4 separate regions of the Homo sapiens genome follow, and all the other regions are linked to region 3. The links come from fine-mapping of genetic effects on gene expression. A gene starts in region 3. Each other region holds a variant in brackets. All regions are shown on one strand. Distances are from middle to middle. Region 1 has its middle 27 kb from the start of ACP3. Region 2 holds the start of LOC124909435 (a long non-coding RNA gene). Region 3 holds the start of ACP3 (acid phosphatase 3). Region 4 overlaps ACP3 (acid phosphatase 3).

The links. PIP is the estimated chance that this variant, and not a neighbour inherited with it, causes the effect.
Region 1: its variant is fine-mapped to the expression of ACP3 in blood mononuclear cells (TOPMed, PIP above 0.99).
Region 2: its variant is fine-mapped to the expression of ACP3 in whole blood (INTERVAL, PIP above 0.99).
Region 4: its variant is fine-mapped to the expression of ACP3 in whole blood (TOPMed, PIP above 0.99).

The regions. Positions count from the first base shown.
Region 1 is chr3:132,286,105-132,294,215 of GRCh38, forward strand. No RefSeq gene overlaps it. Among named protein-coding and RNA genes, the nearest start is that of ACP3, 27 kb to the right of the region's middle. The variant C/G (reference allele first, on the strand shown) is at 4,997.
Region 2 is chr3:132,369,941-132,378,051 of GRCh38, forward strand. It overlaps LOC124909435 (a long non-coding RNA gene), which reads left to right and starts at 6,849. Exons shown (of 2, transcript XR_007096093.1): 1 at 6,849-7,422. The variant T/A (reference allele first, on the strand shown) is at 3,464.
Region 3 is chr3:132,312,937-132,321,047 of GRCh38, forward strand. It overlaps ACP3 (acid phosphatase 3), which reads left to right and starts at 4,471. Exons shown (of 10, transcript NM_001099.5): 1 at 4,471-4,640. The coding sequence starts at 4,521.
Region 4 is chr3:132,338,198-132,346,308 of GRCh38, forward strand. ACP3 (acid phosphatase 3) reads left to right here. Exons shown (of 10, transcript NM_001099.5): 6 at 4,355-4,447; 7 at 6,730-6,862. Among named protein-coding and RNA genes, the nearest start is that of ACP3, 25 kb to the left of the region's middle. The variant GGAGTAAAGTCTAC/G (reference allele first, on the strand shown) is at 4,416.

The DNA.
Region 1 (8,111 bases), 27 kb before region 3:
TTCTCTAATAACTAATTAGGCACAGGGTTTTATTGTTGTTATTTTGTTTTGAGACAGGCTCTTGCCCTATCAGCCAGGCTGGAGTGCAGTGGCATTGTCAGAGGCCTTTGAACCAGAGCAACTCCATCTTGAAAAGGGGCTGGGTAAAATAAGGCTGAGACCTACTGGGCTGCGTTCCCAGGAGATTAGGCATTCTAAGTCACAGGATCAGATAAAAGGTTGGCACAAAGTACAGGTCACAAAGACATGTACATTAATTATATGCACTAACTATAATGCATTATCATGCTAAAAGATATGCCCAGCAGTGCCATGACAGTCTATAAATGCCATGGCAATTTCAAGAAGTTACCCTATATGGTCTAAAAAGGGGAGGAATTGTCAGTTCTAGGAATTGCCCACCCCTTTTCTGGAAAACTCATGAATAATTCGCCCCTCGTTTAGCATATAATCAATAAACATAAAAATCGGCAACCAGCAGCCCTTGGGGCTGCTGTGCCTATGGAGTAGCCATTCTTTTGCTTCTTTACTTTCTCAATAAACTTGTTTTCACTTTATGGATATGCCTCAAATTCTTGCGTGAGATCCAAGAACAGCACAATCATGGCTCACTGCAGCCATCTTGGGTTCAAGCCATCCTCCCACCTCAGCCTCCTGAGTAGCTGGGACTATAGATAGGGGAAAGTCACCACACCCAGCTACCTTTGTTTATTTTTTGTAGAGATGGGGCTTCCACCATGTTGCCCAGGCTGATCTTGAACTTCTGGGCTGAAGCTATCCTCACACCTCAGCCTTCCTAAGTGCTAACATTACAGGCATGAGCTACTGCACGCAGCCTATTTTTTTAATTCTAAGGTAACTTCAGTGTGAGGCTAAGGTTGAGAACCAGGATAGTAAGAGATATAAAAGTATGTCTTAAATGAATAAGATAAACCTGTGTCTCTCTGAAGCTTCATCATCTGTGTCTGACACTTTTGTTGCCATTCACCCAATTTCTGAAGCCCAATGCCTAGGAGTGCCCCTTGATTCTCCCGTTAGCCTTAAATAATGAGGACCAGAAAAATTAAGTATAGAGTTTATAGGAGTCCAAAGCTTGAGGATGGCCACATGGGGGCATAGATTCAAGTTGCCATAAATATACACCCTGATTAGTAGCAGTTACTAGTTGAAGTTTTAAGGAGTAAAAGAAGAGGCAGTTCCTAAGTTGTTTACCAAGAATTTACATTAAAATAACATAAGCTAATGATTGGCTATATATTGTTCTTTGTATCACAAAAACAGGAAGAAAATGGATGTAGCAGCTAGTCAAGAACAAAATACCTTTAAACAATTGTCCCAGACATAGCGGAGAAGGTGACTGAAGTCCCATACTCATGTTTCTCTGAGCCTGATAAATTCTGCATATCTCACATAGCTCAGACTGCTCTGAGCTATTTTCCTTTTTTCCTTTTCTCACCCTTCTCCCTCACATCTCATATCCAATACTAGTATGTATTTTTCTCGTCCATTCACTTCTTTTGACTTCCCCAAATCCACCCTGATCCAAGCTACAATCATCTGTTTCCTGGGCCACTACAGTAGCCTCCTGGCTGTTCTCATTCCCTTTTTTGCTTCTCCATAATTCATTCTTCACAAGCAGCCACAGAATTTTTAATGCATATCACTCCCCTGATTAGAACTCCCCATTTGGCTTCCCATTGCATTTTGAATAAATCCAAACTCCTCACCATGGCCTCAACAAGATCCTGGGTGATTCAACACCTTCCTACCTCTCTGACCTTGTCTGCTCCTGCCCTTTCCCATTTTTACAATTCTTCAGTCACTCTGGCCTTTTTTCTTTCCTCTGAGACCACAATCTCACTCCCTGCCTCAGGGTTTTTACACTTCCTGGGATGCTCTGATGGCTCTCCCCTTTCCTGCATTCAAGTCTCACCTCAAATGTCACCTCATAGAAACCCTCTCTGACCACTCATCTAAAGTATCCCCCACCTCAAGTCACTCACAGTCATGTCACCTTATTTTATTGTCTTCACTGTAGTTCTCACTGTTACAGGACCAATGGGTTTGTATGTCCGCTGTGCAGTATCAGACTGATAGGCTGAGACAACAGGGTTTGCAGCAGAGAAAGAGTTTAATGATTGCAGAGTGGTCAAGTGAAAAGATAGGAGGAGACTCAAATCCATCTCCCCAAGATGTTCTGCGCTGGGGTTTTTAAGGGGATCATGGAGGGCAAGGGCCTAGAAAATTGAGGTCATTAATTGGTCAGGTAAGCGTAATGAAATAATCAGGATGTGGAAATTGCATTCTTTGTTAAGTCAGCTTTTCATGGGGCCTCAGTGAGGTCCCTCAGACCAGTTGACATCAATAGTTTCACTGGTATGCAGGACCTGAAAGAATATCTCAAATGGAAAACAACATTTCACAATGTTTAAGTTGTTATCTACAGAACAGTTAAGTGGTGACAGGTCTGTGTGATTCTGGGGTAACAGGCAGTGAATAACTCTTAGTAGGCAGGTCAGAGAGTAAGCTGACCTCATGATTAATGGTGAATGTGCTGCGATCTTGCTTTATTTTTATTTCTCCCCCTCTTTTCTACTCTGATTAACTTTCTGAAGTCTATAGGGATGGTTTCATCATTATCTGAAATTATCCTGTTTATTTATTTGGTTACTCGTTTACTATCTCTCTCTGCTAAAATATATTTCATTTTAAAAAGAAACTTGTCTATTTTGTTCACTTCAGCATTGTAAGAACCTTGAACAGTGCCCGACACATATAGGCACTCCATAAATATTTTTTTGGATGAATGAATATGAGGCAATAGGCATGGAAATAAAAACCAGGTTTTTTCAACTGAAATTGAAGGAGAAGAGCTCTTTCTTCTTAGGTGAAGCTTAGAGCAGCCTTGGCCCTAGCTTCAATTGGAAAGATACATAGTTTACAAAATTGAAGCCAAACAGGGAGCAAAGAAGAATGGAATAGATGAACGTCAGTGGCAGTTTTATTCCAAGTTCCCACTGATCTTTTCCCTTTCTTTTGTTCAGTAACATGAAGCAAAAAATTATTTTCCTTGCCTAAAATGAATCAGATTAGATTAGATTTCTGTTACTTGCCTCCAAAGGAATCCTGAATACTATAGTGGACAACAGGCTTCAAAGAAAGTTCCAACATTGGAGGCTGAGAAGGGGACTCTGGTCAGGAGCCCATTACCTAGACTGAGACCCCACTGTTCCTCCCATCAATGCCAAGCCAAGAATATAAAAAATGCCCTTCACAGAAACAACCAGGGAGGTGTGATCCTCAGATATGCTTTCAAAAACAAACTTGCCCATAAATTCCAAGGAGAGCAGTTAGCTGACATCCTCCAGCTGCAGTGCCTTTGGGATCTACTCTAGTGTTTGACCTGAGGCCACATTCTTTTCTGGTAGCTCCAGATGACTAAGCATGGCAGGGGTACCAGGCCTGAACATTTTTTGCCCCACTCAAGATTCCTCTATTGCACTGGAGCCCCCATTTTGCAGGCTGTCTTTCTCTGGGTTGCACTAATCTGAGGCTCTCCGGACCCAATCCTCCTTCTTCCCACTCTCCTTTCCCAGTTATTGGACCTGCATTATAGTCTGAAGGCTTTCCCTCCCTACTCCTTTATCAGCCATTACTCCTACTAAATTGAGTGCCCTTCTAACTGTCTTGGCATTTGCTTTCTGGAGGAGCCAACCAGCACACTAACCAAGTGCAGGGCAAGGCCAACAGCTCTCATGCTGTCTAGGGGCTGGTGTGAGGAAGAAAGCATGAGATGCAGGTACAATGGAAGGAGGGGAGACTTCTGGAAGATCAATAATTTATGGGTCCACAGCAATAACTTGTTTGTGTCTATTGAAGGGAAAACAGAGAGAAGAAGCTGAAGAAGACCATTAATAGCAGCTATGATTGAAATAAAGCAGAGAGAAGAAACATCTCCCTGGGAACTTTCCTCCTCCTTTCTTGTTGGAATTTTGTATAGACCACCATAAATCAGATGTTTATGGCTCTGAATTCAAGCGCTTTACTTATAACATATTCCTTTAACTATGGCATTGATCCCTGTGATGCTGAAGGTACGTTCACATAGCTCTTCGCATTTCCTGAAAAAGGAGAGGGGAATTCTCTTTCATTATAACAGGATGTCCTCTCTGTCGATGGCCATAGACATTCCTTGTAGGAAGCTGTTTCAGAATGCTGAAGATTGACTTGTCCAGCAGTTACCTTCCCAGGTCCAATACATTGTGATCTTGTGCTGTTGGTGACATCCCCCAGCCTCCATATTTGTCTCCTTGGCTTCTGCTTCTAGATACCACTATTCCACTCTCTTGTAAACTTTCTAGCTTTGTTTGATAACATCAAAGGAATAAGGATTTTGGCTGGGTGCGGTGGTTCACACCTGTAATCCCAGCACTTTGGGAGGCCGAGGTGGGTGGATCACCTGAGGTCAGCAGTTCAAGAACAGCCTGGCCAACATGGTGAAAACCCATCTCTACTAAAAATACAAAAATTAGCCAGGCATGATGGTGGGTGCCTGTAATCCCAGCTACTCAGGAGGCTGAGACGGGAGAATCACTTGAACCCGGGAGGCAGAGGTTGCAGTGAGCCAAGATCATGCCATTGCACTCCAGCCTGGGTGACAGAGCGGAACTCCGTCTCAAAAATAAATAAATAAATAATAATAACGGTTTTGGAGTTAGCCAGACCTGAGTTTGTCTTCTTACACAGTGCTACTTAGCTATCTGCCTTTCAAGTATGTTATGAGGATTAGATGAAATACAACGTGCCATGAGACTGGCACATGCACAACATACAGTAGGCACTCCATAAATAGTGTCCTCTCTTCCTCTCTTTCTCTTCTAAGGCGAAACATCTGGTGTTCACTCTCTGACCTTGCCTTCATAATTGCCATTCCTTACCCTTTTGCTGAAGCTCTTGCACAACTTCCTCTGCCACCCACATCATCTCACAACCACAC[C/G]CACAACTGGAGTTTTACAATTACCCATCTGTCTCTCAGTTAGGATGTCCCATATTCCTCCTCCTCCAAAACGAGGAAACTGTAGTAACAGCATAATTAACAATGTATTACTAATGTTATAGTAGATCCAGTGGTGGGCTGGAGCCAGTTTGTACTGGTTTACAATAACCAATTGTTAAACTTTCAGTAATTTTGCCAACTGGTTGTTAAATGCAGCCATTACTAAAAATTAAATGTTAAAATAAATTATATTTAAAATGAAGGTAAGAATACTCAAAACTCATCACTTACAAATTATTTTACTGCATTTTATTATTTATGCTCTTGAAGTTATTTTCACTTGTGTCTGCATAATGGGAATATTGTATAATGGTGTGCCCGTCTCTTTCCACCTCCATGTAAAGTCACATCATGTTGGTAGCTTCAAATCAGCCATAGTAGGAGTATTTTCACCATGGAAATTGAAAAATGCTGCAAATTATAGAAAATTATAACTTTTTTTCAGAGCCAGTTGTTAAACATTTACAACATAGCACTCAGTGGATCCTTTTGAATATGATCCAATAATAATAACAGCAACAGCAAAATAACCAATAATAGCTAAAGAAATGAGCTATTTTTTAAAGAAATTAATTACCATCAAGATATCCCCATCAAACCATTTGCAATTCCCTAGACACATCATGCTCCCTCATGCCTTCATGTCTTTTTCATTGATCTAAGTACCAGGTTAATAAATGATTAAATGAATGTTTCTCTTCTGAGCAACCGTATATTCTGTGCTTGTTTTGTTGGATTTATCTCATAATTGTTTATCTTTTCCTACAACATAGTATTCTCCTTGAGGCAGGGACTTTGTCTTTCAACCTTGGCATTCCCAAGGACTGCTCATAGTAGAAAATCAACAAATGTTTGTTGAATGAATAAAACATTTGAATCATTAGCTTATCTATAGCAATAGTTCTCAAACATTTAGTCTCAGGACCCCCTTATACCCTTAAAAATTATTGAGGATCCTTAACAGCTTTAGTTAATATGGGTTGTGTCTACTGATACTTACAATATTCAAAATTAAAACTGAAAAAATTTTAAAACACAAGAATACATAAGCACACATTCAATTTGTCATGAGAGTAATGATGTCATCACATCACATAGCTTCTGGGAAACTCCAGTGAATCTTCATGAGAGAATGAGAATAAAAAAGAAAATAATATTTTAGTGTTGGTGTGAAACGTTTTTTGTTTTGTTTTGTTTTGTTTTGTTTTTGAGATGGAGTCTCGCTCTGACGCCCAGGCTGGAGTGCAGTGGCACAATCTCGGCTCACCACCACCTCTGCCTCCCGGGCTCAAGTGACTCTTCTGCCTCAGCCTCCCCAGCAGCTGGGTCCACCGGCATGTGCCACTATGCCAAGCTAATTTTTGTATTTTTAACAGAGACAGGGTTTCACCATGTTGGTCAGGCTGGTGTCAAACTCCTGACTTCATGATCCACCTGCCTCAGCCTCCCAAAGTGCTGGGATTACAGGCATGAGCCACCACGCCTGGCCGGTGTGAAAATACTTTGACCCCACAAGCCCCCTGACTAGATCTCAGGAATTCCCTGAAGGAGTCTCAGGGGCCCTCTGAAGGGTCTCAGGACCCCCAAGCAACACATTGAAAATCACTGCCTTATAGTAATTCTTCAACTAAATAAACTAACTCAGAAAAAAACATTCCACAGAGTTAGGTACAATGGATTTGATGATTTAGGATTAAGCACAGTAACTCTGTCCCAGAGGGAACTTGGAGAAAGGTGGACTGGTAGTCATTTGATGTGAGTCATTGTTTTGTGGATTAAATAATTTTGTAAAGTGAAAACGTGGTACTAAGCACATTAATCAATTACATATTTTTGATAGACTTTCTATAGGCTGAGGTATTTTTTAAATCAAGTAATTGGCATATTTTAGCAACCGATATTTTGGGGTATATTTTATGACTCTTGACCTTACGCTGGAAGCAGCACTAACTTTAAAACTCTCCAGCTACAGAACCCTAGTCTCCTATCAGGCTTTCTGAGACTGAGAAGAAGTGGTCAATAAATAGTGATTCCTGTGGTTTCCTTTTGAATTAAAGACTTTTCTGATTGAAACATTCATGCAGCTTTATAATCTGGTGTGATTAGTCCATTCTCACACTGCTATAAATACCTGAAACTGGGTAATTTATAAAGAAAAGAGGTTTAATTGACTTACAGCTCCACAAGCTGTACAGGAAGTATGGCTGAGGATGTCTCAGGAAATTTGCAATCATGGCAGAAGGCAAAGAGGAAGCAGGCACATCTTACATGGTGGGAGTAGGAGAAAGAGAGTGAGGGGGAAGGTGCTACACACTTTTAAAACACCAGATCTCATGAGAACTCACTCATTATCATGAGAACAGCAACAGGGAAGTCCACCCTCAGTATCCAATCACCTCCCACCAGGCCCCTTCTCCAACATTGGTGATTACAATTCAGACATGAGATTTGAGCAGGGAAACAAGTAGAAACCATATCACTGGTCAAATCCACTAATGTCTGTACATTACCACAATAATTATTATTTAATTGTTTAATTTTAAACAGATGAGAAAAGAAAGCCACTACTTCATTTTCCAAAATAGGGAGTATAAAAATCTTTTTCTTTCCTGTATCTATATAATATCCAAAATTATGTTACAGAAGTATTTTTGCTTTTCTCATGCTAAGAATACCAGTTCTTTCTTCAACATTATTTCTAATAAGCAGTTTCAGATAAAGAGTATGAATGTCAGGTTGCTCAGTTTCCACTCTTGTCAACTCTATTAAGTTTATTATGTAAAAAAGAAGAATGAAATGAGATAAAATGGATATATTTAGGATGTTTCGGGATGCCAAAACATTACTACTTTTACTATGACATAACAGAGGATGCCTTAATGCCTTATCACAAAGCTTTTCCCATTAAGCATCACAAAGGGTTCTATTTTTTCTTACAGTAATTCCCCTTTGAGGATAATATATTGCCATACTTCCTAAAGGAGGGTATATTTATCTTAGATGATGTATTCAGCAAAGTGTGTGTGTGTGTGTGTGTGTGTGTGTGTGTGTGTGT
Region 2 (8,111 bases), 57 kb after region 3:
CCTAGATGCTAAATTGTCCACCCCAATTGTGATTATTAATTGCTTGACTCTGACACCGACCTTATACAGGGTTGGTAGAATGTAAAAGTAAGAGCTTTCACAACACTTTTTCCATATCATCTTTTTTTTTTTTTTTTTTTTTTTTTTTGAGAGAAAGAGTCTTGCTCTGTCGCCCAGGCTGGAGTGCAGTGGCGTGATCTCAGCTCACTGCAACCTCTGGCTCCTGGGTTCAAGCAATTCTCCTGCCTCAGCCTCCTGAATAGCTGGGATCACAGGCCCGTGTCACTATGCCCAGCAAATTTTTGTATTTGTATCACAAGGGTTTGTGATAAAGGATTGATTTATTAATTACTATATTTTGCAAGAATTAACATTATTATCTTTAAAGCAAAATTAGAAATGCCTTTGATCTGGACACTCCCAAGTCTGGGTCTCTTCAGTAAACATTATTAATTTGTTCCTTTAACCATAAACATCTAGAGGCTAGGAATACCAAACTTTCTAGAAACACAGCCCAGCAAGTCCCAGCTTCATTTTGCTAGCCCTCACTCAAAATGGAGTTGCTCTGGTTCACACGTCTCTGACAGCAGGATTAAAAGATAATATGGGCCAGGTGTGGTGGCTTATGCCTGTAATCCCAACACTTTGGAGGCTGAGGTGGGCAGATCACCTGAGGCCAGGAGTTGGAGACCAGGCTGGCCAACATGGTGAAACCTCGTCTCTACTAAAAATACAAAAATTATCCAGGCATGGTGGCGCCCGCCTATAATGCCAGCTACTCAGGAGGTTGAAGCATGAGAATTGCTTGAATCCAGGAGGCAGAGGTTGCAGTGAGCCAAAGCTGTGCGGCTGCACTCCAGCCTGGGTGACAGAGTGAGATTCTGCCTCAAAAAAAAAAAGAAGACTGCAAGTAATCTGTATTCAAAACAAAAATAAATGCAGATAATACAATAATACAGAAGAGTATAAAATGCAAAGTGAAAGGTCTTCCTAACCAGTTTCAATCACTAGTGGCAATCCTGTCAACAATACCTGGTTTTATTTCTTCAAAGGAGAGGCATTAATTTTATAAAACATACTTTTATTTTCTGAAATTTTCACATCTTTCCCTTCTTTTACAACCCATGGTGTCCTCTTTCTTGTATTCTTTTTTTATTTCCCTGAAGCAATTTTTTTAAAAGATGCATGAACAGTAAGCATTCTGATCCTAACATCTAAACATGTCTACAGTGTGCCCTCACACTTACCTATTAGTTGGCTGGGTATATTCAGGTTGAAAATCTTTTTTTTTCTTTTTTTTTTTTATTATACTTTAAGTTTTAGGGTACATGTGCACACTGTGCAGGTTAGTTACATATGTATACATGTGCCATGCTGGTGCGCTGCACCCACTAACTCATCATCTAGCATTAGGTATATCTCCCAATGCTATCCCTCCCCGCTCCCCCCACCCCACAACAGTCCCCAGAGTGTGATATTCCCCTTCCTGTGTCCGTGTGATCTCATTGTTCAATTCCCACCTATGAGTGAGAATATGCGGTGCTTGGTTTTTTGTTCTTGCGATAGCTTACTGAGAATGATGCTTTCTAATTTCATCCCTGTCCCTACAAAGGACATGAACTCATCATTTTTTATGGCTGCATAGTATTCCATGGTGTATATGTGCCACATTTTCTTAATCCAATCTACCATTGTTGGGCATTTGGGTTGGTTCCAAGTCTTTGCTATTGTGAATAATGCCGCAATAAACATACAAGTGCATCTGTCTTTATAGCAGCATGATTTAGAGTTCTTTGGGTATATACCCAGTAATGGGATGGCTGGGTCAAATGGTATTTCTAGTTCTAGATCCCTGAAGAATCACCACACTGACTTCCACAATGGTTGAACTAGCTTACAGTCCCACCAACAGTGTAAAAGTGTTCCTATTTCTCCACATCCTCTCCAGCACCTGTTGTTTCCTGACTTTTTAATGATTGCCATTCTAACTGGTGTGAGATGGTATCTCATTGTGGTTTTGATTTGCATTTCTCTGATGGCCAGTGATGATGAGCATTTTTTCATGTGTTTTTTGGCTGCATAAATGTCTTCTTTTGAAAAGTGTCTGTTCATGTCCTTCACCCACTTTTTGATGGGGTTGTTTGTTTTTTTCTTGTAAAGCTGTTTGAGTTCATTGTAGATTCTGGATATTAGCCCTTTGTCAGATGAGTAGGTTGCGAAAATTTTCTCCCATTTTGTCGGTTGCCTGTTCACTCTGATGGTAGTTTCTTTTGCTGTGCAGAAGCTCTTTAGTTTAATTAGATCCCATTTGTCAATTTTGCCTTTTGTTGCCATTGCTTTTGGTGTTTTAGACATGAAGTCCTTGCCTGTGCCTATGTCCTGAATGGTAATGCCTAGGTTTTCTTCTAGGGTTTTTATGGTTTTAGGTCTAATGTTTAAGTCTTTAATCCATCTTGAATTGATTTTTGTATAAGGTGTAAGGAAGGGATCCAGTTTCAGCTTTCTACATATGGCTAGTCAGTTTTCCCAGCACCATTTATTAAATAGGGAATCCTTTCCCCATTGCTTGTTTTTGTCAGGTTTGTCAAAGATCAGATAGTTGTAGATATGCGGCTTTATTTCTGAGGGCTCTGTTCTGTTCCATTGATCTATATCTCTGTTTTGGTACCAGTACCATGCTGTTTTGGTTACTGTAGCCTTGTAGTATAGTTTGAAGTCAGGTAGTGTGATGCCTCCAGCTTTGTTCTTTTGGCTTAGGATTGACTTGGTGATGCGGGCTCTTTTTTGGTTCCATATGAACTTTAAAGTAGTTTTTTCCAATTCTGTGAAAAAAGGCATTGGTAGCTTGATGGGGATGGCATTGAATCTGTAAATTACCTTGGGCAGTATGGCCTTTTTCACGATATTGATTCTTCCTACCCATGAGCGTGGAATGTTCTTCCATTTGTTTGTATCCTCTTTTATTTCCTTGAGCAGTGGTTTGTAGTTCTCCCTGAAGAGGTCCTTCACATCCCTTGTAAGTTGGATTCCTAGGTATTTTATTCTCTTTGAAGCAATTGTGAATGGGAGTTCACTCATGATTTGGCTCTCTGTTTGTCTGTTGTTGGTGTATAAGAATGCTTGTGATTTTTGTACATTGGTTTTGTATCCTGAGACTTTGCTGAAGTTATTTATCAGCTTAAGGAGATTTTGGGCTGAGACAATGGGGTTTTCTAGATATACAATCATGTCATCTGCAAACAGGGACAATTTGACTTCCTCTTTTCCTAATTGAATACCCTTTATTTCCTTCTCCTACCTAATTGCCCTGGCCAGAACTTCCAACACTATGTTGAATAGGAGTGGTGAGAGAGGACATCCCTGTCTTGTGCCAGTTTTCAAAGGGAATGCTTCCAGTTTTTGCCCATTCAGTATGATATTGGCTGTGGGTTTGTCATAGATAGCTCTTATTACTTTGAAATAC[T/A]TCCCATCAATACCTAATTTATTGAGAGTTTTTAGCATGAAGGGTTGTTGAATTTTGTCAAAGGCTTTTTCTGCATCTATTGAGATAATCATGTGGTTTTTGTCTTTGGCTCTGTTTATATGCTGGATTACATTTATTGATTTGCGTATATTGAACCAGCCTTGCATCCCAGGGATGAAGCCCACTTGATCATGGTGGATAAGCTTTTTGATGTGCTGCTGGATTCGTTTTGCCAGTATTTTATTGAGGATTTTTGGATCGATGTTCATCAAGGATATTGGTCTAAAATTCTCTTTTTTGGTTGTATCTCTGCCCGGCTTTGGTATCAGAATGATGCTGGCCTCATAAAATGAGTTAGGGAGGACTCCCTCTTTTTCTATTGATTGGAATAGTTTCAGAAGGAATGGTACCAGTTCCTCCTTGTACCTCTGGTAAAATTCGGCTGTGAATCCATCTGGCCTGGACTCTTTTTGGTTGGTAAACAATTGATTATTGCCACAATTTCAGATCCTGTTATTGGTCTATTCAGAGAGTCAACTTCTTCCTGGTTTAGTCTTGGGAGAGTGTATGTGTCAAGGAATTTATCCATTTCTGCTAGATTTTCTAGTTTATTTGCGTAGAGGTGTTTGCAGTATTCTCTGATGGTAGTTTGTATTTCTGTGGGATCGGTGGTGATATCCCCTTTATCATTTTTTATTGTGTCTATTTGATTCTTCTCTCTTTTCTTCTTTATTAGTCTTGCTAGTGGTCTATCAATTTTGTTGATCCTTTCAAAAAACCAGCTCCTGGATTCATTGATTTTTTGAAGGGTTTTTTGTGTCTCTATTTCCTTCAGTTCTGCTCTGATTTTAGTTATTTCTTGCCTTCTGCTAGCTTTTGAATGTGTTTGCTCTTGCTTTTCTAGTTCTTTTAATTGTGATGTTAGGGTGTCAATTTTGGATCTTTCCTGCTTTCTCTTGTGGGCATTTAGTGCTATAAATTTCCCTCTACACACTGCTTTGAATGCATCCCAGAGATTCTGGTATGTTGTGTCTTTGTTCTCGTTGGTTTCAAAGAACAACTTTATTTCTGCCTTTATTTCGTTATGTACCCAGTAGTCATTCAGGAGCAGGTTGTTCAGTTTCCATGTAGTTAAGTGGTTTGGAGTGAGTTTCTTAATCCTGAGGTCTAGTTTGATTGCACTGTGGTCTGAGAGACAGTTTGTTATAATTTCTGTTCTTTTACGTTTGCTTAGGAGTGCTTTACTTCCAACTATGTGGTCAATTTTGGAATAGGTGTGGTGTGGTGCTGAAAAAAATATATATTCTGTTGATTTGGGGTGGAGAGTTCTGTAGATGTCTATTAGGTCCACTTGGTGCAGAGCTGAGTTCAATTCCTGGGTATCCTTGTTGACTTTCTGTCTCGTTGATCTGTCTAATGTTGACAGTGGGGTGTTAAAGTCTCCCATTATTAATGTGTGGGAGTCTAAGTCTCTTTGTAGGTCACTCAGGACTTGCTTTATGAATCTGGGTGCTCCTGTATTGGGTGCATATATATTTAGGATAGTTAGCTCTTGTTGTTGAATTGATCCCTTTACCATTATGTAATGGCCTTCTTGGTCTCTTTTGATCTTTGTTGGTTTAAAGTCTGTTTTATCAGAGACTAGGATTGCAACCCCTGCCTTTTTTTGTTTTCCATTTGCTTGGTAGATCTTCCTCCATCCTTTTATTTTGAGCCTATGTGTGTCTCTGCACGTGAGATGGATTTCCTGAACACAGCACACTGATGGGTCTTGACTCTTTATCCAATTTGCCAGTCTGTGTCTTTTAATTGGAGCATTTAGTCCATTTACATTTAAAGTTAATATTGTTATGTGTGAATCTGATCCTGTCATTATGATGTTAGCTGGTGATTTTGCTCGTTAGTTGATGCAGTTTCTTCCTAGTCTCGATGGTCTTTACATTTTGGCATGATTTTGCAGCGGCTGGTACCGGTTGTTCCTTTCCATGTTTAGCACTTCCTTCAGGAGCTCTTTTAGGGCAGGCCTGGTGGTGACAAAATCTCTCAGCATTTGCTTGTCTGTAAAGTATTTTATTTCTCCTTCACTTATGAAGCTTAGTTTGGCTGGATATGAAATTCTGGGTTGAAAATTCTTTTCTTTAAGAATGTTGAATATTGGCCCCCACTCTCTTCTGGCTTGTAGGGTTTCTGCCGAGAGATCCGCTGTTAGTCTGATGGGCTTCCCTTTGAGGGTAACCCGACCTTTCTCTCTGGCTGCCCTTAACATTTTTTCCTTCATTTCAACTTTGGTGAATCTGACAATTATGTGTCTTGGAGTTGCTCTTCTCGAGGAGTATCTTTGTGGCGTTCTCTGTATTTCCTGAATCTGAATGTTGGCCTGCCTTGCTAGATTGGGGAAGTTCTCCTGGATAATATCCTGCAGAGTGTTTTCCAACTTGGTTCCATTCTCCCCATCACTTGCAGGTACACCAGTCAGACGTAGATTTGGTCTTTTCACATAGTCCCATATTTCTTGGAGTCTTTGCTCATTTCTTTTTATTCTTTTTTCTCTAAACTTCCCTTCTCACTTCATTTCATTCATTTCATCTTCCATTGCTGATACCCTTTCTTCCAGTTGATCGCATCAGCTCCTGAGGCTTCTGCATTCTTCACGTAGTTCTCGAGCCTTGGTTTTCAGCTCCATCAGCTCCTTTAAGCACTTCTCTGTATTGGTTATTCTAGTTATACATTCTTCTAAATTTTTTTCAAAGTTTTCAACTTCTTTGCCTTTGGTCTGAATGTCCTTCCGTAGCTCAGGGTAATTTGATCTTCTGAAGCCTTCTTCTCTCAGCTCGTCAAAGTCATTCTCCATCCAGCTTTGTTCCGTTGCTGGTGAGGAACTGCGTTCCTTTGGAGGAGGAGAGCCGCTCTGCTTTTTAGAGTTTCCAGTTTTTCTGTTCTGTTTTTTCCCCATCTTTGTGGTTTTATCTACTTTTGGTCTTTGATGATGGTGATGTACAGATGGGTTTTTGGTGTGGATGTCCTTTCTGTTTGTTAGTTTTCCTTCTAACAGACAGGACCCTCAGCTGCAGGTCTGTTGGAATACCCTGCCGTGTGAGGTGTCAGTGTGTCCCTGCTGGGGGGTGCCTCCCAGTTAGGCTGCTTGGGGGTCAGGGGTCAGGGACCCACTTGAGGAGGCAGTCTGCCCGTTCTCAGATCTCCAGCTGCGTGCTGGGAGAACCACTGCTCTCTTCAAAGCTGTCAGACAGGGACATTTAAGTCTGCAGAGGTTACTGCTGTCTTTTTGTTTGTCTGTGCCCTGGCCCCAGAGGTGGAGCCTACAGAGGCAGGCAGGCCTCCTTGAGCTGTGGTGGGCTCCACCCAGTTCGAGCTTCCCTGCTGCTTTGTTTACCTAAGCAAGCCTGGGCAATGGCGGGCGCCCCTCCCCCAGCCTCGCTGCCGCCTTGCAGTTTGATCTTAGACTGCTGTGCTAGCAATCAGCGAGACTCCGTGGGCGGGCGTAGGACCCTCCGAGCCAGGTGCGGGTTATAATCTCGTGGTGCGCCGTGTTTTAAGCCTGTCGGAAAAGCGCAGTATTCGGGTGGGAGTGACCCAATTTTCCAGGTGCGTCCGTCACCCCTTTCTTTGACTAGGAAAGGGAACTCCCTGACCCCTTGCGCTTCCCGAGTGAGGCCCTCGCCCTGCTTCGGTTCGCGCACGGTGCGCGCACCCACTGGCCTGCGCCCACTGTCTGGCACTCCCTAGGAGATGAACCCGGTACCTCAGATGGAAATGCAGAAATCACCCGTATTCTGCGTCGCTCACGCTGGGAGCTGTAGACGGGAGCTGTTCCTATTCGGCCATCTTGGCTCCTCCCCCTGAAAATCATTTTCTACCAAAACTTTGAAGGCGGTATTCTGCTGTCTTCCAGCATACAGGATTGCTGATGAGAAGTCTATCAGTCTGATTCTCATTCCAATGTAAGTAATCTGTTTTGCTTTTTCTAATTCTTTTAAGATATTCTCTTTAGCTTAGAGTTCTGAAATTTCACCAGGTTGTGTTTAGGCATGGGTATTTTGGGTTTTTGTTTGTTTTCTGTCTAATTCTGTATGGCTGATATGATTTTTTTCCATCTAAAGACACTTGTCTTTCTCCAACTAAGAAAAATTGTGTTCTGGAACTTGAATTTCTTGGGTCTATCCTCCATGCCTTGAGTTTTCTCTCATATTTTCCACCATTTATTTTATTTCTCTACATTCCAGTAAATTTCGTTTTCCAGAACATCAACTTGGTCGTCAGCAAATCCATTATTCCTGTTTTACTTACGAGTATTCTTTTCTTTGGTATTTACTGACTGTTCTTTTTTTCACCGTAGCTGTTTTTTGTTTGTCTGTTTTCAGAAATGGGGTCTCACTCTGTTGCCCCAGCTGGAGTGCAATGGCAGTATCACAGCTCACTGCAGCCTCAAACTCCTAGGCTCAAGGGATCCTCCTGCCTCAGCCTCCCAAACAGCTGAGATTACAGGCACATGCCACCACACCTGGCAGCCTCATTATTTTATCAGTGCAATCTCCTCTTGAAAATCTTTAAGGATACTAATAATTTTTTCAAGTTCTCCTCTGCTCCCTAAATTATCTGTTTTCTCTGGGCTCAGTTTTTTGGGTTTATT
Region 3 (8,111 bases):
TCTTTCTTAGGTAAAAAAATAAACAGAAATAAAAGTTTTAACACTTTCTTTACTTTTTAAAGTGTTAGACCATTGCATGAATCCCCTAGGTACACACACCTTAGTTGATGACATTCTTATGATACAGTCTTTGGTTTTATGGGGGATGTTTGTCTAAATACTAAACAATAAAATAGTTATTTTATGCCGAGGGCAAAAAGGCCCTCCACAAAATGATGGTTTGAGAAGAGGAGAACATTTATTCTAAAGCCATCTTATTAAATTTTGCCTCAAAGCAATTCACATTGTAACAGGGCTCTGATGCAGTCATTTGCATTTATATTGACAGTTGGTCAATCAGTATTATTGAGTACCCAATAGTTCATAAGGCCCTGAGAGTCAAATAATACAATTATGAAGGCCATAAGAAGCCAGACAGGTTAAACACAGTCTTCCTTGTGATGCTGGTGAACAGCCATATACTTACTGATGGATCTCACCTCCCAACTCAGACTCTTATGGTCAGAGGCATATTTAGTGCTTTCATAGGCTGTGATCTACTAAGGATCACAATTTTTTTCCTATAAGTGTTCATCATCATAGATTCTGTGTTACACTGCCCAAGGATTCATTGCTCCTAGCTCTTGGAAATTTGTTTGACATCACTCAGCTAGCAACCCCTTTGGGAATTATTTTGGCAGAAGAGAGTCACCTTTGCCTTATCCATGGTCATACTCCCTACCAGGGGCAGACTACGTCCAATGACTGGCTAATAAAAAAGGCCTGGCTCCTCACCTCAATTCAAGACAACCCTGAAAGGCCCTCCTATCTTCAGAACTTGTAACAGGGTCAGCTGACATCTTCAACAATATTGCATTACAAATCAACTTCTCCCTCTGCCCAACCTTGGTTATTTCTCTACCCACCACTGGAGTTAATCCTGAGTGCACTCCTTAATAAACTTCCTACATGCAAATATCTATCTGGGAGTCTGATTTTCAAAAATCCTAACCTGCTCCACTTATGGAACTTTCTAACTGTTCATTAGAACAGTTCATTTGAGGTTGAGCACTTGACATATAGAGAAAGAAGTACAACAAGAGAACACAAGTGATTCAGTCAGTAAGTCCTACTAATCATGGAAAATTATTGACACCCTAAACTCTTACATAAAGACTTCCCAGTGTTTTTTCAAATCTCACTTTTGATGTTACTATGATATGATTTGGCAGTGTCCCCACAAAAATCTCATCTTGAATTGTAACTCCCATAATCCCCACATGTCATGAAAGGTACCTGGTGGGAAGTAATTGAATCGTGGAGGAGGGCTTTTCCCATGCTATTCTTGTGACAGTGATTAAGTCTCATGAAATCTGATGGTTTTATAAAGGGCAGTTTCCCTGCACACACTCTCTTGCCTGCTGCCATGTAAGATGTGCCTTTGCTTCTCCTTCACCTTCCATCATGATTGTGAGGCCTCCCCAGCCATGTGGAACTTTGAGTCCATTAAATTTATTTTTCTTTATAAATTACCCAGTCTTAGGTATTTCTTCAAAGCAGTATGAACGTGGACTAATACATACTATATCCATATATTTATCCCAGATGACCCTTATGTCTTTGCAAAGACCTTATTGAGTTCAAAGTTCAAGGTGCCACAGAACATTCTAAAACAGGTTTCATCTGAGTTGAGGATCTTTTACACTCCATTTCATGGTGTTCAGGTTTTTCAAGACTCTACATTTATGACTTTGAATACTTCTTCTCCCCTTATAACTGAATGATCAAAGTGGAAGTGAGGATGATGATTGAGATAGAAGTATAAACCATTTAATTCAACTTGGATTAAGTTTGAGTTGAGATGTATTCAATTCAAGCAGGCTTTTTCTGGTTTTCAAAGAAAACTTTGTTGTTGTTGCCCTTCTCACTTGAAGAGCTAAAAGGACCCCACAGGCGGTACCACAGAAAAAATTAGGGTCTAGGTCAGAAAGAGGGTTTATCCAACCAGTGCAACATGGTATAGGTAGATTATAAAATCAGTCTTCATTATCAGGAAGGTCTAAGGCTATTGCTGAAATAGTTCCAAGCACCAGTCCAAGGGTGAGACAAGGAAGGAGATAGAACAAGGACCCAGGCAGATAGCTGAGAAAATAAGGCATTCAATAGAAGCAGACATCTGGCACAATTTAAGAAATGTGGTTCAGAAATTTGCCTGTGAATGGTACATAGGTGCTGGAGCTTCCTTTCTCAGATTGCCTGGTGCACACAGCAGGGATTAATGTATCAACTTCATGTATGCCCTGGACTGGAAAACCTCCCAATTTTTATTTCCTTTTTCTTGCACCCATTTCCTCAAAATCTTACTCATTAAAATTGACAGTGTAGACTGGCAGGTCGAGAATGTGATGGCAAAGAGAAAGTTGCAAGTTCCCTTGAATGGTTAATCCTAATCACACATGCATTTATTATTTGCACATTTTTTTTTTTTTTTGGAGGGGGGACAGAGTCTCACTCTATTGCCCAGGCTAGAGTGCAGTGGTGTGATCTCAGCTCACTGCAACCTCAGCCTCCCGGATTCAAGTGATTCTCCTGCCCCAGCCTCCCAGGTAGCTGGGATTACAGGCTCCCACCACCACACCTGGCTAATTTTTGTATTTTTAGTAGATATGGGGTTTCACCACATTGACCAGGCTGGTCTCGAACTCCTGATCTCAAGTGATCTGCCCACCTCAGCCTCCCAAAGTGGTGGGATTACAGGCGTGAGCCACCATGCCCAGCCTATTTGCGCATGTTTCCTACTGCCGGAAGAAGGAACAGTTCTCCCATATACCACATTCCAGGGCATCCTATGATCACATAAGAACACAATCCTCCTGCCACAGGTAAGCGCAATGTACCAGGAAACAGGTTGCGGGTAAACCATTGTTCTCCCTCTGCCATTATGATAGAAATATCATGACAGGCAGCTCTGCCCCCAAATCTTGCAAAATCTCAATGTGCACCTCAAGTTTGTATTGTTTTAGCCTATGATGGAACTGACAGGTTGGGGAAAATGGAAAGCAAAGTTCCATCAGTCTGGATCGCCTTTTGTAGTGTCCCCAGTGAGATCATAGCTGGAGAGGCAAGGATGTAACTCACTCAAAATTTAAGGCTTATGGCCAAAGTTGATGACTAATAATATAGAATTGTAGGTTTGGGCTTTTTGCTTTCTTAAAAAACTCTGTCAGGTTTGGAAAGGGACCTCCAATCTAATTTTGAGATACCACAGGTAATGTCCAATTGTCTTAAGGTGTGACTAAAATTTTTCTTTTGTTTGTTTTTTGTTGTTGTTTGTTTGTTTTGCTGTGTTTTGAGATGGAGTCTTGCTCTGTCACTCAGGCTGGAGTGCAGTGGCACAATCTCGGCTCACTGCAACCTCCACCTCCTGGGTTCAAGTGACTCTCCTGCCTCGCCTCCCAGGTAGCTGGGACTATAGGCATGTGCCACCACGCCAGGCTAATTTTTTTTTTTTGTATTTTTAGTAGAGATGGGGTTTCACCATGCTGGCCAGGCTGGTCTTAACTCCTGACCTCAAGTGATCTGCCCACCTCGGCCTCCCAAAGTGCTGGGATTACAGACATGAGCCACCACGCCCAGCCTAAAATTTTTCAAAATAAACTTGCTGTTACTTTTCTTCTTTAATTTAAAAATACCTCTATAGGCTACATGAGAGTTTTTGAAAAAGTAGCCATGTTTGGCATGGAAATAGGCCCCAAATATGTCAACACCTGTATTTCCTTCCAGATTTCAGTCCTATAACTTTGGACTCCCAACAGATTAAGAATCACTGGTCTAAGGTTTCTAAAGTCAGGGTAGATCCCTTTCCCAAGTGACAGCCACAAATCCAACGCTGTATCATACCCTATCTAAAGAAAAGATAAAAGTAAACTGGCTTGGCACAGTGGCTCATGCCTGTAATCTCAGCACTTTGGGAGGCCAAGGCAGGCGGATCATGCGGTTAGGAGTTGGAGACCAGCCTAACCAACATGGTGAAACCCCGTCTCTACTAAAAATACAAAAATTCGCCGGGTGTGGTGGTGCACGCCTGTAATCCCAGCTACTCAGGAAGACTGAAGCAGGAGAATTGCTTGAACCTGGGAGGCGGAGTTTGCAGTGAGCTGAGATTGTGCCACTGTGCTCCAGCCTGGATGACAGAGCAAGACTCTGTCTCAAAAAAAAAAAAACAAAAAACAAAGATAAAAGTAAACTGAAAACAAGGATAGAAATGTCTGCTAACATGCTCTGTGACCTTGATCAACAGCTTTCCCCGCTCTTGGCCTTGGTGTCCTAACTTAAATGGGGAAACTGTGATCTCTCTCAGCTCAAAATTTACATGACATTATTTACATACCAAACCTGCCCTACGCTTCCTGGAAACTTTACTACTTATGAGTGTGGCTCCTCCTTCCCTTTCAATCCCTTAATTAAATAGCTTCCCCTCTACAGGCTTTTGAAGTGGTAGCAGTTCCTCCTAACTCCTGCCAGAAACAGCTCTCCTCAACATGAGAGCTGCACCCCTCCTCCTGGCCAGGGCAGCAAGCCTTAGCCTTGGCTTCTTGTTTCTGCTTTTTTTCTGGCTAGACCGAAGTGTACTAGCCAAGGAGTTGAAGTTTGTGACTTTGGTAAGTAGACTTTTCTCATTGCTTTTTCCTTAAAACTGTGTTCCCAGCAAAGTCTGATAAGGCAAGCGTCAGGTTTCATCTTATCCTTGGATTGTTTCCCAGAGACCAGGCTCTGTTCAAACTCAGAAAGTGAATAATCAAGTTTTGCAAGTTCCTCTTAATGAAGACCTAACGTGTCCTAACAAAAATATTTTTTGGTCGCTGTTTTTTTAGGGGTTGCTTTTTATTTGCTTTTGCTGATGTTATTTATTTACTTACTTTACAACTGCCTTGAATTCAGATTCCTTTTGACAGCCACACCAGTCCAGAAGAAACCACAGCTGGCGCTGTTTATGTACCAAGAGCTGGCTTCATTCAATTTAATCATTATTTGTTTGCAAGCCAAAAAACAGTCATTTTCTGAATTAAGTAGTCCTTTCACCTTTGTTTATCAGGAAATTAGAACAACTATTTGTAAACAACCTTGAAGCATAAAAGTGAATCTAAATTTGGAATTTTAGGATGATTTTCTGATATATAGATTTAGTTGACGATTAAAATCATTGGCACATGTGACCAGTTATGAAAAAAGGTGGGGGGTGGCTGATGCATAATATCAAGAAAAGAAAATATACTGTTGACATTGTTTGAAAATAGATGGAAAGAGGGTTTGCAAAGTGAAGGGGATTCATCATGTTACCTAAGAGTCTGATTTTCTGTTTCTGTATCTTTTTTTCCTTCTGTTTCACTCTTTCTCTGCCTCTAAGCCTCTAAGCTGCTTCTTGCCTTTCCTCTCTCGTTTTCTTTCTCTTCCCTACATTTTTTTATTTGAGATAGTGAAAGTGGGCTGATAAGTAGGTAAATTTTCTTTCTGTCAAGAATACTCAAAAATTATTTTTATAATTTGAAGGAAAGTCACTGTTTCCTTAAAAATTAAAGTTCAGGCTTTTTTTTTTTTCAGCATGGGATATTCAAAGCTCTTTACTTTCTACAGAAAATATGATACCCATGTGCTTATTTGAATCATTATTCTTATAGTCCAGTAAATCCTTACTAGGTCATGAGTCAACAATGACAGAAAACCCAGTGAAACAAACTATCAATTTATTTACAAATGATTCACCAGCTGTCAGACTTCTGTGCAGAAAAAAAATATATAATACTGTGTGCCTTCTTTAGGGAAACCCATGTGAGCTAGGCTTGTACTTCTATCAGTAGTTTTCTTGCTAACATGTGCATGAGGCAAGTTTAGGGACTGTAGAAATTGTACTGCATCTGCCGTGCTTGTAATACTGTAAACCTGTGACAAGCTGGTTGAGTGGCAGTCCTCTGAGAAATCCAAGTTACTCCAAGCTCACTGTACATGATGTATTCCCTCCTCCATGTTTTACCCAAGTTAGCCCAGGCTAACTTCCTTTGACTACCAAATTGTTGTGGGTTTCCTATATTCAGGGACTGCAAGTTAATTCTTTCCTGAGGAAAGCCAAAATACAAAGCTAGCTCTCTTAGAACTAAAAAAATTAACAAATATTGCACAAAGCCAGTGTTAACTATTTTTTCCTACCATGATTTCCTTCCATTAATGGTAGATGAAGGGCCATTTAATACATCTTTCTTGGCCCTTATAAAACAACGTCCATCTAAGTACTTAAGCCAATAAACATCAGTTTCTTATTTTTATTGACTAAAGAGAATATTTGACTATAAGTGGTTAATTTATACAAATGAGATAACTCTTAGAAAATTATTAGGAGAACCAGAATTGTTTTAAAAGATGCCCATAACTAAAGTGGTAATATTAATGATAATAACCAATAGTCAATTGAGTGCTTACTGCAAGTACTTACTGCAATTGAGTGCTTACAAGGCACTGTTCTGAGTGTTCAATATGAATTGTATCACATAAGCCTGTCAACAATCCTCTAAAATAAGGTCGTTAAATAAAATATGGGATGACCATTTGAATTTGAACTTCAGATAAATAGCAAATAATTTTTTAGTCCCATGCAATATTTGGGCATCCTGTATGTTTATTTGCCAAATCTGGCAACCATTCTATAAAGTTTTGTAAAACTTATTATTCCTATTTTATAGATGAAGAAATTGAGGCACAAAAAGGTTAAGCATCTTGCCCATGGTCACACAGATGGAATGGTGGAGACAGAATTTGAACCCAGGCTCTCTGACCCCGGATGCCTTTCCCTTTATCACTAGACATGGTCTTTTCCTGCTGTGTGTATATAACCCAGCACATGGAGCTAGTCTGAGATCCCCCTGTAAGGTTTGCTGGATTAGCTTGACTCTGAATCAGCAGGTGGTTCCCTTGCTTTTCCTCTGTGATCCGAGAAAAATAAATCCTCCCCAATTCTGAAAAGCTGTTCTCAGCAGAAAGAGGAGGAAACTGTCCTTGGTTCTTGTTCTCGGACTAACTGAAGTGCCTGTGACCCATGAAATGCTAGTTTGACAAGTTGTTAACAGGTGTACATGGGGAAAAAATCAGTTTCAATAGTCAAGTTAGCTTTGGGAATAGAACTGGGTTAAACTGTGTTTAAAAGGTCTCTTTAATGCAGTAATCCTAAGTCTTTAACATGCTAATACGCACTGTGGCTTTCAAGGAAAGGATCTAGTGTTTTCCAAACTCTGTTTTCAAAATTTTGATTACAGCATTCACCTCCCTCTTTTTTTCCCCAATGTCCTGTAGAAAACACTGAGAGAACTGACATTTTTAACTTTATATGGAAAGAATCGTAAATATGGTGAATCTGGATGTCCTCATCAACCAGCTTCAAAGACTATCACCCATGCAATCTTGTTTCATCTGCATAGCCACTCATTTCCCACACACACCCACTTGAGTTTTTTAAGTTATTTCATGCACCATATCATCCAGAAATAGAAAAATGTCATTTTAAAGCATCCTGTCTCCCCTAACCCAGAGAAAACCCACAAGTTCAGCTGATCCAAGACAGAAAAATTCCATCTCATTTCACCGGTGTTAAGAAAGGAATGATGACTTACAAGGTATACACTCTTCTCATTCTTCATGGTTGACTTTCTTCATGCAGAATTCTTAATCAAGTAATATAATATTCTTGGGTTTTTTTTTTTTTTTTGAGACAGAGTCTTACTCTGTCGCCCAGGCTGGAGTGCAATGGCGTGATCTTGGCTCACTGCAACCTCCGTCTCCCAGGTTCAAGTGATTCTCCAGTCTCAGCCTCCCAAGTAGCTGGGATTACAGGCGTGTGCCACCATGCCTGGCTAGTTTTTGTATTTTTAATAGAGACTGGGTTTCACCACGTTGGCCAGGCTGGTCTTGAACTCTTGACCTCAGGTGATCCACCAGCCTTGGCCTCCCAAAGGGCTGAGATTACAGGCGTGAGCCACTGCGCCTGGCATAATATGATATTCTTGATGGAAGCAGCCTCCAAATTCTCAGCACATAATCTATATACTGGAATGGGTAACTTCCACATTATGGACATGAAGGACCTC
Region 4 (8,111 bases), 25 kb after region 3:
TAAAAATATATTCTGATAGTTTCTTCTTTTGTTACACGAAAATGGTATACTATTCATAGGGTTGGGCACCTTGGTTTTGTTTTGTTTTTTTTTTTCCATTTAAGAAAATATATTGGAAATATTTCTATATCTGTATGTAAAGAGTTTCCTCCTTTTCTTTCTTTTCCTTTTTTTTAACAAATGTGTAATATTTATATTTATGCCATAATTTATTTAACCAGCCCCTATTGATAGGAATATGGGTCATTTTTCAATCTTTCATTTTTACAAACAGCATGTATGAATAACTTGTGCATCTAAATAGTTTCACAAGAATACCTGTGGGATAATATCCTAGAAGTAGACATTCTGGGTTAATCTGAAATATTATTAATTTACCCTCCAAAGAGGTTTTACTACTTTCTACTTCTATCAGCACTGCATGCAAATGCCCATTTCTCCACAACTTTGCCAACAGTATGTGGACCACTCTGGGGATATTTGCCAATCTGGTAAGTGGAAAATAATATCACTAGAAGCATCCATCTCCTCTAAAATTAGGAATAAGACAAGGAAGCTCACTATTATAACTACTGTACAACATCGTGCTATAGTACTTTTCTTCTTGTGATGAGTGAGTTTGGGTATCTTCATCTAGTTAAATACCATTTTTTGGTTTGTTTTTTGATATTGTATTTCTTTTTTAACTTTTATTTTAAGTTCAGGGGTACAAATGCAGGTTTGTTATATAGGTAAACATGTGTCATGGGGGTTTGTTGTACAGATTATTTCATCACCCAGGTATAAAGCCTAGTACTCATTGGTTATTTTTCCTGACCCTTTGCCTCCTCCCACCCTTCACCTTCCAAGAGGCCCCAGTGTGTCTTCTTCCCCTCTATGTGTCCGTGTATTCTCATCAGTTAAATGCCATTTATATTTCCTTTTATATCAATATCCCTTGACTATTTTTCTTTTGGATGATTGATTTTCCTTTTGCTATAAGTTTTTAGAAGCTTTTTTCTATGTATTTTAACATTTCTGTCTGTGATATTTTGTGTGTGAAAAAAAACACACTCAATGTGTTTTTTCCTATTTTTCTCACTTGAAAACACCAATCAACACAGACAGAAGACTTCTGTGACCAAATATGGGGGATCTCTCTGCAAGAAAAGGCAGCCCGTTCTGCAGTAGACACCAGCTGGGTGGCCTCCAATTCAGTTTTGACACCATCTATTTGGAGATAGCATCAGATCCTACAGGTTGAGGGCTCAGGCCCCAAAACTGGCCACCCCCAACCCGCCACCTCAGACACAGATGAAAGTCCAGACCTCCAAACTTCTGACAGGCTGGCTTTAAGTTGGGGTTCCCACAACTTCCTCTTTGGGTTCGATCAGTTTGCAGGGGCAGCTCACAGAACTCAGGGAAACACAGTTATTGGTTATTACAAAGGATATTACAAAAGATATAAGGAAAAGGTCAAGGAGCTTGCCTGCCTTCTTCAGGACCACCACATTCCAGGAACCTCTAAGTGTTCAGCTCTCTGAAGGCTCTCTGAACCCTCTCCCTTTGGGCTTTTTATGGAGATTTCATTGCATAGGCATGATTGATTAAGCCACAGGCTATTGGCTATCAACTTAAATTTTAACTCCCTCCCCTCCCCAGAGGTTCTGAAGTAGGGCTGAAAGTCCCAACGCTCTAATCCCGGCCTTGGCTTTCTGGTGACCAACCCCCATCCTGAAGCTGGCCAGGGACTGCCAGCCATCAATCAATCATTAGCATGCAAAAAGACATACTTTGGAGACTCCAAGGATTTTAGGAATTCTATGGCAGAAAATGGAGATGAACACCAAATAGAAGGCCGGGCACAGTGGCTCACGCTTGTAATCCCAACACTTTGGGAGACCAAGGTGGGTGATCACCTGAGGTCAGGAGTTTGAGACCAGCCTGGCCAACTTAGTGAAACCCTGTCTCTACTAGAAACACAAAAAATTAGCCAGGCGTGGTGGCAGGCGCCTGTAATCCCAGCTACTCAGGAGGCTGAGGCAAGAGAATCACTTGAACCCAGGAGGCGGAGGTTGCAGTGAGCCGAGATGGCGCCACTGCATTCCAGCCTGGGCAACAAGAACGAAATTCCGTCTCAAAAAAAAAAAAAAAAGACCAAATATATATTTCACAATATCATAGATAATGAATGGCATTTTTAAAAAAAAGTTTGTCTATTAACTGCTTACCGTGTTCTTGCCATGTAGGTTCTGTATCAATGTATTCTTATATGGCTTCTATATTTTGAGTCATGTTTAGAAAAGCTTTCCCCACTCCTAGGTTATAAAGGAAGTCTGCAATGCTTTCTTCTAATTCCACTCTAGCTTCATTTCTCATTTATATATTGAATTCATTTACAGTTCATACTGGTAGAAGGTATCCTGTTTAAGTTTTTTCCTGGAAGATTATCTAATTGCTCCATCATTGTTTATTGAATAGTTCATTTTTTTCCTACTTATTGAAGCTATTATATATTAAAATTCCCATAGGTGTGGGGTCTATTTATGTAATTTTTATTCTGTTTAATTTTTTATTAGCCAAAACTTGGGTTTTAACTATTAAGACTTTATAATATGCTTTAATATCTAAAGGGCTAGTCATCCCTCATTGCTTTTTCTGAGTTTCCATGGCTATGTTTTAATTTTCTTTGTGAACTTCAGAGTCAGCTTGTCTAGTTCCAAAAGTATTTTTTAATTTTTAGTATTTTCATTAGGATCATATTAAATTTATTTAACTTAGGGAGAATTTGCAACTTTTCACTGTCAAATCTTCCTAAGAATATGGTACATGTTCCTACTTGTTTTATCTTAAAGATTATTTTAGGGTTTTCTTCATATATGTCTTTACATTTTTTGTTAAGTTTGTTTCAGGTTTACAGTATCTCCAGTTTTCAAAAATGTGTATCTCTGATTTCTTCCTTTTGCCTATTTGCACTGGCCACTACTTACAGTATAATGTTATGGGCAGTGTTGGTAGCGGGTATTCTTGTCTTATTTCTGATTTTAGAGGAGTTTTCCTAATAAGCATACAGGCTTTTGAACCAAAATAGACATATTTTTATGAAATTAAGGAAATATCCACCTTTCTTATTTTCTTGAGTGTATTTTTTTAAATCAATATTAGTTGTTTAATCTCCTGAATGATTGTTTTAACATTTTTTAATACAATCAAATTATTTTTCTCCTTGGATTAATTACAATGATTGATTACATTCATAGATTTACCAATGTTGAACAATCTTTATATTTCTCAAATCAAACCCATTTCCTTTTATGTGACATTGAATTACTTCCTGTTATTTTACTTACACCTTTTGCATTGATATTTACAAGTGGCATTGAACTAATAGTTTTATTTTGGGGGCAATCTTTGTCAGTATCAGTGTTACACTTAATTCATAAGAAGTTTTTGAAAGTTTTCTTTCATCTTCTATGCTCCAGAACAGTTAAAATAGCATTAGAATAATTTACTCTTGAAAAGCTTGGTAGAATTCCTCTATGACAGTCATCTGGCCCTGGAGCTTTTATGTTTGAGAAGATGGCAGTAGGAGCTCTTTAACAATAATTTCTATTATTTTATGAAAATCTATTGAGGTTAATATTGGCAAATTGTAGTTCCCTAGAAATTTCATCCATCAGACAGACAATATCTTCCAAAAAGGCTTCCCAGAAATGGCTGCCAATTTCAGCAGTCAGATAGCTGAACATTGGGTCTCATTATTGCGACATTCCAAGAAACATACAGAACCTAGCGAAAGATTTGCATTCCATCCAAGTTTTATATGTATAGCCAAAGACCAAGCCCTATTTGTGTTGCATGTTCCAGGATGCTTTGGCCTGAAATATGCTTTCCTTTCTCACCTGGGACATATTTACACATGAGTTATACTTTACCCACTTCTAAAAAGAATCTGAGGCAGTACACTTCAATCCAATTCCAGCACGAACCAGGAACATGTGGCAGTCAGCCAGCATCTATCTACATTTTAAATGTAATAATAAGGAATAATCAATTCGTGTTTGTAAAATTCTTTGGAATGACATTATCGTAACCAATATTACTGGTGCATTTTTCTGTGAAGAACAGCGGTTCTCAACAGGGGCGCATTTGCCTCACAAGGAACATTTGGCAATGTCGGGAGATATTCTGGGTTATACAAGTGGGAGATTAGGAATGCTACTGGCATCTAGTGGGCAGAGGCCAGGATACTGTGAAACATCCTATAATGCACAGGAGAGCTCCCTACAACAAACAATTGTCTGGCCCAAAATATCAATAATGCTGAAGCTGAGAAACCTGTGTAGGAATTTTTCTTTCTCTGTTTGTGTTTCAGGATTTTATAGCTACCTTGGGAAAACTTTCAGGATTACATGGCCAGGACCTTTTTGGAATTT[GGAGTAAAGTCTAC/G]GACCCTTTATATTGTGAGGTAAAAGAAAAAAAAATCACAGGTTAACTTGCAATCTGATTTTATGATTTATGCTTATTTTGAAATAGATGAATATCTTTTCTTTCACTTCTTTATGAATGTATTACTTATACTTCTTTTGACATTGAAACGTAATTCACAACTTCCTTATATTAACTTGAAAATGCTGACTTCTCTTTTCTCTCTATTATTATTTATGTTTTCACCCTTTAGAAAATTACAAGCAAAATTGCTTTTCTTCTATGAGTTTCCACTTTAGTTTTTTCCCCCCTTGGATTCAGTAGGAGCTTATTTATTTTGCAGCCACTCAAAAATGCTGGGTTCCTGTCCTTGGTCTTAATGAAAAAACAATGTTGTTATAAAGAAAGAGGGGAAAATTACCTGATTTCCGAATGTAGAAATAAACAAGCAAAATATAAGCCAGGCTATTTATATTTGCTTAACAAGAAAGAACTTCTTTCTTGCTTTGCGATGCATTTGAAATACCGTTTGTGGCCAGATAAATTACGATTGCTTTTCAAGGTTACATGGTGTTTCTCACTCACCATGCTCCACCTTCTGGCCAAAAGGAGTACTCTCTGTTCCTGTTTTCCCAACTAGCTCACTAAATATGGGGCAAGATTCTGACCACCCACCTAATTCATATTGACTTCTAACTTTGAGGTCATCGTGAGAGTCTGGGGGGCAGCAATTACTTCCGTAGTTCTATCTTAATAACAGATGACACAGTTTGCCTCCATCCATCCTAAAGTTAATTGACCCAATCACATGCTACTTTCCCAGTATTTTCACTTAATCATCAGCAACTATTTCAGTGAAAATTCATTAGCATTGTAAAAGACTCTTCAGTGAAAACAAGAGCCCCCATTTTTGTTCCAGTCATAATTTTTTTTTCTTCCTTACTACAGTTTGATCTGAGCTATTCCAAAATGTGGTCATGTCATGTGATATTTTTTCCAAATCTCTCTCACTTATTTCCTCTGTAGGTCACTCCACTTTGGTCTCCTCTTTCACGAACTCACTTTCTCTCACTCTTAATCCTGCCTTTGAAACTGGGGGACTCCTAATCAACTCTTCCTAACGGGTAATAAATATTGGCACAAGGTCTCACCTGCCCTGCTTGTACTTAACCATTCATTTAACGCATATTTACCAAGTATCCACTGTGTGCAAGGTGCAGGCTTTCCTCAAGAGTCAGTGAACTACAGCCAGGTATGGTGGCTCCTGCCTGTAATCCCAGCACTTCTGGGAGGCTGAGATGGGAGGATCATTTGAGGCTAGAAGTTCAGGATGAGCCTGGGCAGCATAATGAGGCCCTACCTCTACAAAACACTTTTAAAAATTAGCCACGTGTGGCCAGGTGTAGTGGCTCATGCCTATAATCCCAGCACTTTGGGCTAAGGTGGGCGGATTGCCTGAGCTCAGGAGTTCGAGACCAGCCTGGCCAACATGGCGAAATTTCATCTCTACTAAAAATACAAAAATTAGGCGGGTGTGGTGGCGCATGCCTGTAATCCCAGCTACTCGGGAGGCTGAGGCAAGAGAATCGCTTGAACCCAGGAAGTGGAGGTTGCAGTGAGCTGAAATCGTGCCACTGCACTCCAGGCTGGATGACAGAGCAAGATTCTGTCTCAAAAAAAAAAAAAAAAAAAAGTGCCACGTGTGGTGGCATGCACCTATAGTCCCAACTACTCAGGAGGCTGAGGTAGGAGGATTGCTTGAGTCCTGGAGTTTGAGGTTACAGTGAGCTGTGATGGCCACTGCATTCCAGCCTTGGTGACAGAGCAAGACAATGTCTCTGAAAAAAAAAAAAGAAAAAAAAAGTCAGCAAACTAGACCTTGATGGGGGTAGGGGAGAATATATTACTGAAGGCTCCAGAAATATATTGCCTTTCCTAACTGGCCTCTCAGGCAGCCCATTCAGCTTTTAAGGAAATATCATTTAACTCTGTCAGGTTCATAGAAAGATTTCTAACCCTTTCATAAAGGAATGAGGTATTATTTCCCTACTGCACCCTTACTCTGCAAAATATGAGCCACCCACTGATCCAGAGTTAAACCAAAAGCTATGGACTGGGTAGGAATGGGTAAATTCATTTATATAAGCTTTTCTTCTGAAAGTCAATACCACTACTTATCACAATATGAAGTTCTTTTAGAAAGAAATGGCAGGACAAGAAAGTCTGGCCCTACTAGTTCTTGTGAGGTGAAAAAGGATAAGTCAACAAAGAGGACAGTCATATAAATACACATACATTTTTCTTCCTTTTTCTTTGCTACAGAGTGTTCACAATTTCACTTTACCCTCCTGGGCCACTGAGGACACCATGACTAAGTTGAGAGAATTGTCAGAATTGTCCCTCCTGTCCCTCTATGGAATTCACAAGCAGAAAGAGAAATCTAGGCTCCAAGGGGGTAAGTATTAAAAAATGAGAGGAGCATATTGGATTTGTGGTTGAATGATCCAGGTCTGAGTCATTCCCTCCACTAATCAACTGTGTGATCTCAGACAGTTCACTTAATCACTCTTGCACCAGCTTCCATTCTGCAAAATGGGGATATTAATGATACCTACTTCATAGACAGTGAGTATTAAAATGAATGTATGTATTCAAATGGCTTAGAGCAAACAGTACCTGGTACATAATACACTGTCAATAAATGTCATATGTTAGTATAATCATAACTATTACTCACTCAAGCCCTTAGTTTTCTATCTGGAAAATGAAAGCTAAAGCTAAATGATCCTTTCCATCCCCTCCAGATCAAAAATCAAGGATCTGTGTCTGAGCCACATGAAAATCAATTGTGTCTTGTGGCCTATATGATGAATTTTTCAAGTGGGAGGTATGACAAAAGTGGCCTGTTTTCCTGAAACCCTGAGTGGTAGTCATTGTGAAAGCCGATAAAATATATTTTTCAGGCTAATTGTTATATTTTTCAGACCAATTATGTGCTGTTAAAATATGTTGCAATTGACAAGTTTATAACACAGCTTGAAATTTTTCATTGACATTGAAAGCTGTTGAGATTTATTTATCAGTGATGCCTCTTCTTGGTTAGAACTGGCTCTTCGTAGCACAGGACACCCTGTCATATGAAGGCAGACCCAGGCAAGAGGATGCTGGATTCTTGTAATCAGGATAAGTGGATGGAAGAAAAAAGTCAGGACCAGCAAAGACAAGGACAGATGTTGGGGCTTATGAGAGAAACTGGATGGGCAGGCCAAGATACCAAATGAGGTGTCAGACTTAGATGTGGTTATCATAGGTATTAAAACTAGGGATAAAGAAGAAGAGAAAGTTCATCATGTCAGGTTGACGTAATGAGGAAAGTCCAAGCCACAGGAGATGGTCCAAGTCAGGCTGACACACATATTCAAGGCATTTTGAGATTAATACAATCACATCATGATTCCAGCCATTGACAGACACTATTCACCACAGCATCAGGACAAGTCCATCAAAATCCCAAGAGAATGCATAGAGGCAAAGCATATTAGGGCTGGACCAGACTGGGAGGTTGTTCACTGAGGCTACTTAACTAGGGAAAAAATTCAAATCACTGACCAGAAAAGGAATCAATTATAGCTAGAAAAGCAGGGCTGCACACCAGGTATAAAGAGTGAGGCAAGCTGTAACCAGGGGAATGAGGTATGAAACCA